Regions from separate parts of the Homo sapiens genome. Here all the other regions are linked to region 3. Evidence: fine-mapped expression QTL. A gene starts in region 3. Each other region holds a variant in brackets. All regions are shown on one strand. Distances are between the middles of the regions.

Region 1 (2,500 bases), 140 kb after region 3:
TCTGACAAATTATTTTAAAATGTGGATTGATCCTGGAGAAGACAGAAAGCCACACTAAAAGTATAATTTGTCAGTATCATCTAGCACAGCAGTTTTCAAACTATGATCTCAGGACTCCTTTACAATCTTAAAAAATTTTCAAGGATCCCAAAGAGTTTTTGTTTATGTGGATAGTACCTATCAATGTCTACTGTTTTAGAAAAAAAATGGGGAAAATGTACATGTTTTCTACATGTATTTATACATGTATAAAATGTCTACACGCACACACACACACACACACACACATATATATATATATATATATTTTTTTTTTTTTTTTTTTTTTTTGAGATGGAGTCTCGCTCCGTCACCCCAACTGGAGTGCAGTAGCGCAATCTTGGCTCACTGCAACCTTCGCTTCCCGGGTTCAAGCAATTCTCCTGCCTTAGCCACCTGAGTAGTTGGGAATACAGGTGTGCACGACCATGCCCGGCTAATTTTTTGTTGTTGTATTTTTAGTAGAAGATGGCATTTCGCCATGTTGGCCAGGCTGGTTTCAAACTCCTGACCTCAAGTGATCAGCCTGCCTCAACCTCCCAAAGTGCCGGTATTACAAGTCTGAGTCACCACGCCCGGCCTATTTATTTATTTATTATTGAGACAGAGTCTGCTTTGTCGCCCAGACTGGAGTGCAGTGGTGAGATCTCAGCTCACTGCAACCTCTGTCTCCCGAGTTCAAGAGATCCTCTCACCTCAGCCTCCTGAGCAGCTGGGACTACAGGTATGTGCCGCCATGCCTGGCTAATTTTTGTATTTTTTGGTAGAGATGGGGTTTCACCATGTTGGCCAGCCTGGTCTTGAACTCCTGAGCTCAAGCAGTCTGCCCACCTCAGACTCCCGAAGTGCTGGGATTACAGGCATGAGCCACCGCATACAGCCTATTTATTTTTGAGACAGGATCTGGCTCTATCACACAGGCTGAAGTGCAGTGGCGCAATCACAGCCCACTGCAGCCTCGACCTCCCAGGCTCAAGTGATCCTCCCACCTCAACCTCCCAAGTTGCTGGGACCACAGGCATGAGCTACCACACCTGTCTAACTTTTGTGTTTTGGGGAGAGACAGGGTTTCACCACGTTTCCCAGGCTGGTCTCAAACTCCTGGGCTCAAGTGATCCACCTGTCTCAGTCTCCCAAAGTGCTAGGATAACAGGCATTAGCCACCGTGCCCAGCCCATATTTATTCATTTAAAAATAGCAATGGCCTGGGAAACATGGTGAAACCCTGTCTCTACAAAAAAAAAA[A/T]TTTTTTAATTAGCTGGGCATGGCCAACACCTGTAGTCCCAGCTACTTGAGAGGCTGAGGTGGGAGGATCACTTGAGCTTAGGAAGTCAAGGCTGCAGTGAGCAGTGATCACACCACTGCACTCCAGCCTGGGTGGCAGAGTGAGACCCTGTCTCAATATAAATAAATAACAATGAACTCATTACGTTTTATGAAAAATAACTATTTTCCAAAACAAAAAACTGTGAGAAGAGTAGCATTTTAACATTTTTGAAAATATCTGGCAGCTGTAGTCTCATGTCAGCGTCTGCATTCAGTCTGTTGTTATATGTCATGTAACTTATGGAAAGTTCCACTGTACTCTCATGAGAGAGAATAGATTTTTATGAAATTATAGAATTATTCTGAAGATAGTTTTGACCTTGTAGACCTACTGAAAGGGTCTCTGGATCCCCCAGGGGTCTCTAAACCACACTTTGAGAAATGCTGATGTAGCAGAAATGATGAATGCCAGGCTCTGGAAATTGACCACCCTAGGTACCTATTTTTTTTTTTTTTTTTTTTGGAGATGGAGTCTCGCTCTGTTACCCAGGCCAGAGAGAGTGCAATGGCGTGATCTCAGCTCATTGTAATTTCCGCCTCCTGGGTAAAAGCAATTCTCCTGCTTCAGCCTCCTGAGTAGCTGGGGTTACAGGCACACACCACCACGCCTGTCTAACTTTTTGTATTTTTAGTAGAGATGGGGTTTCACCATGTTGGATAGGCTGGTCTCGAACTCCTGACCTCGTGATCCGCCCGCCTCAGCCTCCCAAAGTGCTGGGATTACAGGCATGAGCCACCGCGCCTGGCCTAGATACCTGTTTTATAAGTTATACCAAATACCAACCTTTTGTATGATGTAGAATTAATACTTTCTCAAAAGCTATAATTTCAAATAATTTCACTTTCTTCAGTAAGGTAATTCATTAACTGTGTATAACTAAATCTATATATTTAATTTTTATCACAAATTAGAAAAGATTATTTTCCAATCACATCTGGAAAATATAATAAAGCTTCATTCTGTAGCACAAAATAAACAATCAACAAGTATTTGTCAAATGTTCTTTTTTTTTTTTTTTTTTTGAGACGGAGTCTCACTTTGTCGCCCAGGCTGGAGTGCAGTGGCGCGATCTCGGCTCACTGCAAGCTCCGCCTCCCGGGTTCATGCCATTCTCCCGCCTCAGTCTCCCGAGTA
Region 2 (2,850 bases), 110 kb after region 3:
AGCTTGCAGTGAGACAAGATCGCGCCACCGCACTCCAGCCTGGGCGACAGAGCTAGACTTCGTCTCAAAAAAAAAAATCACTGTTCACACCAAGTGGGCAGATGCATTTTTGATTGATTGATATCCTTGCCTGTAGAGGCAACTGTTCCAATTGTTCAGGCTTTCTTTTTAATTGGTAGGGTTGAAATGTGGATTTCCTTGGAGAGTTAAGGCATGCTTTTTGAGTCATCTGTTACATTTTCCAGGATCCCTGTGTTTTCTAGAGTCTTGCCTGGTTTTCTGAGTGGTTGGTAGGATACTACTTTCTGCTCTTGCCCCCACTGAGTCATTTAAAGATCCATGTTCAGACCGGGCGCAGTGGCTCATGCCTGTAATCCCAGCACTTTGGGAGGCCGAGGCGGGCGGATCACCTGAGGTCAGGAGTTGGAGACCAGCCTGGCCAACATGGAGAAAACCCATCTCTACTAAAAATACAAAATTAGCCGGGCGTGGTGGCACATGCCTGTAATCCAAGCTACTCAGGAGGGTGAGGCAGGAGAATCGCTTGAACCCGGGAGGCAGAGGTTGCAGTGAGCGGACATCACACCATAGCACTCCAGCCTGCGCAACAACGACGAAACTCCGTCTCAAAAAAATAAAAAGCCGGGTGTGGTGGCTCATGCCTGTAATTCCAGCACTTTGGGAGGCAGAGGCGGGAGGATAACCTGAGGTTGGGAGTTCCAGACCAGCGTGACCAACATGGAGAAACCGCGTCTCTACTAAAAATACAAAATTAGCCGGGCATGGTGGCAGGTGCCTGTAATCCCAGGTACTAGAGAGGCTGAGGCAGGAGAATCGCTTGAACCTGGAAGGCAAAGGTTGCGGTGAGCCAAGATCATGCCATTGCACTCCAGCCTGGGCAACAAGAGCAAAACTCCATCTCAAAAAAAAAAAAAAAAAAATCCATATTCACGTTAATCCAAAAGCTCCCACTGATATAAAATATCCAATCCTGGCTTGAACTTCTGTGACTTGCGTTTTACTATAATCCATCCACATGGTACTCACATTATGCACTGACTTTATACAAAAAAGTTTAAGTACCTGTGGATATCAGTTGAGTGGGCCACCCCTTGGGGACTGAGATTACCCTCAGAAGAATTCTTTTTGACTGGGTGCGGTGGCTCACACCTGTAATCCCAGCACTTTGGGAGGCTGAGGTAGGTGGATCACAAGCTCAGGAGTTCAAGGCCAGCCTGGTCAGCATGGTGAAACCCCATCTCTACTAAAAATACAAAAATTAGCTGGGCATGGTGGTACGTGCCTATAGTCCCAGCTACTCAGGAGGCTGAGGCAGGAGAATCACTTGAACCCAGGATGTGGAGGCTGCAGTGAGCCGAGATTGCACCACTGCACTCCAGCCTAGGCAACAGAGTGAGACTCCATCTAAAAAAAAAAACAAAAAAACTCTTTTCTATGCCTTTCAAGGGCTAAGATATAGACGTATCATGGGTACACAGAGTAGGAACAAGGAATAGCTCCAGAGTCAATATAAAGAAAGGATGTCCTAGCCAAAAGAATGACCAGATAACAC[T/G]GAACATTCTTAGAAAACAAAAGCAGCCAAACAGAAAAAGCATTAATCATTTGTTCTTTTAGCTCTCTAAATGAAGGCTACCTTGTTTGGACCTGGTATATCACTGGTGACTATAGGGTGATGACAGCTTTTCTGTTGGTAAAGCAGAAAAAGGGGCCAGCTTGGGACTTATGATGGTTAAGGAGGCTCTGCTCATGACTGCTACAAGGCCAGCTTGGTTCCAGTGACTTGCTGGATCACTCTTGGGCAAGGTGAAAGTAAATTTGCTTTGCATTACATATTTCATTAGCAATGTTTCCCAACAGCCAAGAGACTGGGAATTGGTACATGCTCATTTTTCTGGGGATAGAATCATGAACAGGGGCCAGGCACAGTAGCTCATGCCTGTAATCCCAGCACTTTGGGAGGCCAAGGTGGGCAGATCACCTGAGGTCAGGAGTTGGAGACCAGCCTGGCCAACACGGCGAAACCCCGTCTCTACTAAAAATACAAAAATTAGCCAGATGTAGTGGCGTGCACCTGTAATCCCAGCTACTTGGGAGGCTGAGGCAGGAGAATTGCTTGAACCCGGGAGGCAGAGGTTGCAGTGAGCTGAGATGGCGCCACTGCACTCCAGCCTGGGTGACAGAGCAAGACTCCATCTCAAAAAAAAAAAAAAAAAAAAATCATGAATAGGGTCTCAGACCAAGATCATTGTGTACTGGTGGTTCCTGTATGCTAAGTTAGTATGTCCTCTGTTCCTTGAGATGCTGATTGAAAATCCCATGGGGCTGGGTTTATTACTTCCTTTTAAAATATATCTTTTCTTTTTTTTTTTTTTTTTTTTTTTGAGATGGAGTCTCCATTTGTTGCCCAGGCTGGAGTGCAGTGGCACAATCGGGTCACTGCAACCTCCGTCTCCCGGGTTCAAGCGATTCTCCTGCCTTAGCCTCCCGAGTAGCTGGAACTACAGGCACCTGCCACCATGCCCAGCTAATTTTTATATTTTTGTACAGGTGGATTTTTGCCATGTTGACCAGGCTGGTCTTGAACTCCTGACCTCAGGTGATCCGCCTGCCTCAGCCTCCCAAAGTGCTGGGATTACAGGCGCGAGCCACCCTGCCCAGCCCTTTAAAACTGTATCTTAATATAGTGTAGTTACCATGAAGCTATTCCTGGGTTTGGATGGAAGTGGCTTCAGGCAGTGGTTCACAGAACAGCAGCAGTGGCATCACCTATGAGTTTGTTAGAAATGGGAAATGCAAATTCATAGATCCTACCCCCAAACTCATGAAAGC
Region 3 (2,850 bases):
CTAATTTTTGTATTTTTAGTGGAGACGGTGCTTCGCCATGTTGGCTAGGCTGGTCTCGAACTCCTAACCTCAGGGGATCCGCCTGCCTCAGCCTCCCAAAGTGCTGGGATTACAGGTGTGAGCCACCGCGCCCGGCCCCTTGTACCTGATTTTGAATGGAGTTTCAACCAATCACAAACAGACAACCAGCCAAGTGGTTATATAATTAGGGACCTCCCATGTGACCATACCCAAATAAGGCAAACGCTTAGCTGTAGCCAATCAAATTTCTTTACTTTCGTGTTCAGCCTATAAAGTTTGATGCCTGGGCAGCTAGAGCAGGGGTGTCTGAGCCTCTTTTGGTTCTGACTGTTGTCCGATTCAAAATCTAAGTTTGTTTTGTCTGAAATTTTTATTTCTACAATACCTATCCAGAAATCAGTCTAGGCTGGATATTTGAAGGAAGAAGGGAATAACTGGCTGGCATATTCATCACCTGTTGGAAATCTCTCTTCTCACACATTTTCATTAACTTCTTGAGGAAGTGTAATTACAAGCGTTTTCCCACGAGCAGCCCCTACTAATAACGCATCAAGCTGCATGAATTCCGAAAAGCTTCAGAAAACTTGTGGTCTGAAACCCTACTATGCTTGAGGTACAGGAAAGAAGGATACTATCAAAAGGCATCATGCAGCTGGCACGGAACTGGGACAAGAATTTGGGGGCAGGATGGCCAAGTGCTAGGCCAATTGACGGTCTCCAAACCATTAGCACAGCTCCTATTCTGAATGGAGGAGTAAAAACAGCTGTTGGAGAACTTGGACGTCATCTGCCCTTGTCAAACCGTTTTCAGGATTAATGTACTTAATTCAGCTTTTTCCACTACACCACACAGCCTCCTGTAAAACACCCTCCCTGCACACAACTTACCCCCAAAGCACCAGGAACCTAGCTGGCTAGAGTTGAGCTTAGGAAAAACCTGAGTGGCTCCAGAGTCAAACTGCGATAACGTTGAGTCAGAGGAGTTAAGGACAAAGTAGAGCTGCACAGAGGCCCACGTCGTGCAAGTGCGTGTCTCCTTCAGAGAAAAGCGTGCCGAGGTAGACTAGGCCCCGGGCAGCAAAAACCCTGTCCCGTCGCCAGCGCCCCGCACCGCCAGAGCGACTGGAGCAGACGCGAGCGCTGGGCACGTAGCCGGTGGCGCGCACGCTCAGCCCGAGGCCGCACGGGAGGCTGTCTGGCGTGCGCGCCCCCGCGGCGGTGGGCGGGGTCCGGGGCGGGGCCGCAGGAGCAGTAGGTGTTAGCAGCTTGGTCGCGACAGGTGCGCTAGGTAGAGCGCCGGGACCTGTGACAGGGCTGGTAGCAGCGCAGAGGAAAGGCGGCTTTTAGCCAGGTAAGGGCCTTCTCTCTCCACAACCGGAGAGTGCGGGAAGACCCCGGCTTCTCTCCACACCCTCTTTCTCCTTCGACTTTTGGGGCGGGGGGAGTGCAAGGAGTGTGAGTCCCTCCCCCTCGAGATAAGGGGTCGAGGGACGCTGATCCTCCGTTCTTTCCTCACTTCTGGGGCCTGCGCTGGGTGGGGAGTGCTTATGTCGGGCTGAGCCTTTGCTGCCCAAGGGCGGGAGCTGCAAATACCCCGTCCTCTCCCACCGAGAACACTGCATTCTAACTGTATACTTTCTGGTGTGGTGGAGGAAGGTGACAATTCATTAAAACTCCAAATACCCTCCTTCCAGGGAAATACTGTAATATTCAACTGTTCTTTTTCCTTCATTTTCAGCCATTCCCTCTCTTTTCGATTTTTTCTCCCTTCCATTACGCCAGCTGAACTCTGTTTAAGACACTTACACCCTTTTGAGGAATGTTGAGAATATAGCAGTCCTTGCAGCCGATGTGTCATCCCCGAATCGCTATCGTGTATATATCGCTGGCACTTGCCCCCGACATATGTTGGTGTTAATGTAAGGTAATTGTACACCCCTGGCTACACATACTAAAGCTTGAAGTTGTAGCTGCTAGGAACGAACCATCTGGCACCCTTCCTAGCCTCCTTACTGATGCTTGCAAGAACGGTTTAGCTGATCCTGGTGAGAGATATTTGAACTACTATTGTCTTGCACCTAATTCCAGCTTTCAAAAGTCTGCCTTGGACGGGCGCAGTGGCTCACGCCTATAATCCCAACACTTTGGGAAACTGAGGCGGGAGGATCGCTTGAGCCCAGGTGTTTGAGACCAGCCAAGGCAACTTAGCGAGACCCTTGTCTCTACAAAAAAATAAATAAATAAATAAAAATAAAAGATAAGTCTGCCTAATCCAGATCTGCCTAATCCAGATGGTTCAATTGACTTGACTTTTCAGGTTAGTCAAAGGTAATTAGGGAGTTATCAGTTTTTAAGGCAATGCCCATTTTGGGGAGAGGTTTTCTTTTGCATTAAGTATTCTTTCTTTTGCTCTTGATTTAAATGGTTTAACACAGTACCTTTTATCTGCTTGGTTACCAATACTATTCACAAATGCTAAATATTTCAGGAGCCATGAAATAACACCAATCCTTTCTTCTGAGGTATGATGTAGACACAAAAGAACATGACCCCTAACAACATGTTCTAAGTTCCTGTAGAGGTATAACCTGGGTGCAGGATGATCACGTTTTAGATAGATCTTCAAAAAATTATAGAGTTGGCGTGAAAGAAGGCAAAAAAAAGTGTGTGTTCATATATGTTTTCTTGTTTTGCATTGATAGAACAACATATAATGTACTAGGTAATTAGTTTAGGAACTTATTTCATTCTTTGGACAAAATATTGAGTGCCTTTCATGTCAGTCCTACTGTAGATTCAAAGTGCCAAACGTCTTTACCCTAAAAGAAC

The links.
Region 1: its variant is fine-mapped to the expression of LIMA1 in blood mononuclear cells (TOPMed, PIP 0.97).
Region 2: its variant is fine-mapped to the expression of LIMA1 in whole blood (TOPMed, PIP 0.92).

Annotation. Positions count from the first base shown.
Region 1 is chr12:50,146,735-50,149,234 of GRCh38, reverse strand. The region is part of intron 1 of CERS5 (ceramide synthase 5); the gene reads left to right. The region is part of intron 1 of LOC124902931 (a long non-coding RNA gene); the gene reads right to left. Among named protein-coding and RNA genes, the nearest start is that of CERS5, 19 kb to the left of the region's middle. The variant A/T (reference allele first, on the strand shown) is at 1,285.
Region 2 is chr12:50,171,941-50,174,790 of GRCh38, reverse strand. No RefSeq gene overlaps it. Among named protein-coding and RNA genes, the nearest start is that of CERS5, 6.0 kb to the right of the region's middle. The variant T/G (reference allele first, on the strand shown) is at 1,574.
Region 3 is chr12:50,281,942-50,284,791 of GRCh38, reverse strand. LIMA1 (LIM domain and actin binding 1) reads left to right here and starts at 1,272. Exons shown (of 11, transcript NM_016357.5): 1 at 1,272-1,372. LOC107984505 (a long non-coding RNA gene) reads right to left here and starts at 1,171. Exons shown (of 2, transcript XR_001749144.2): 1 at 910-1,171. RefSeq lists a silencer at 1,052-1,361.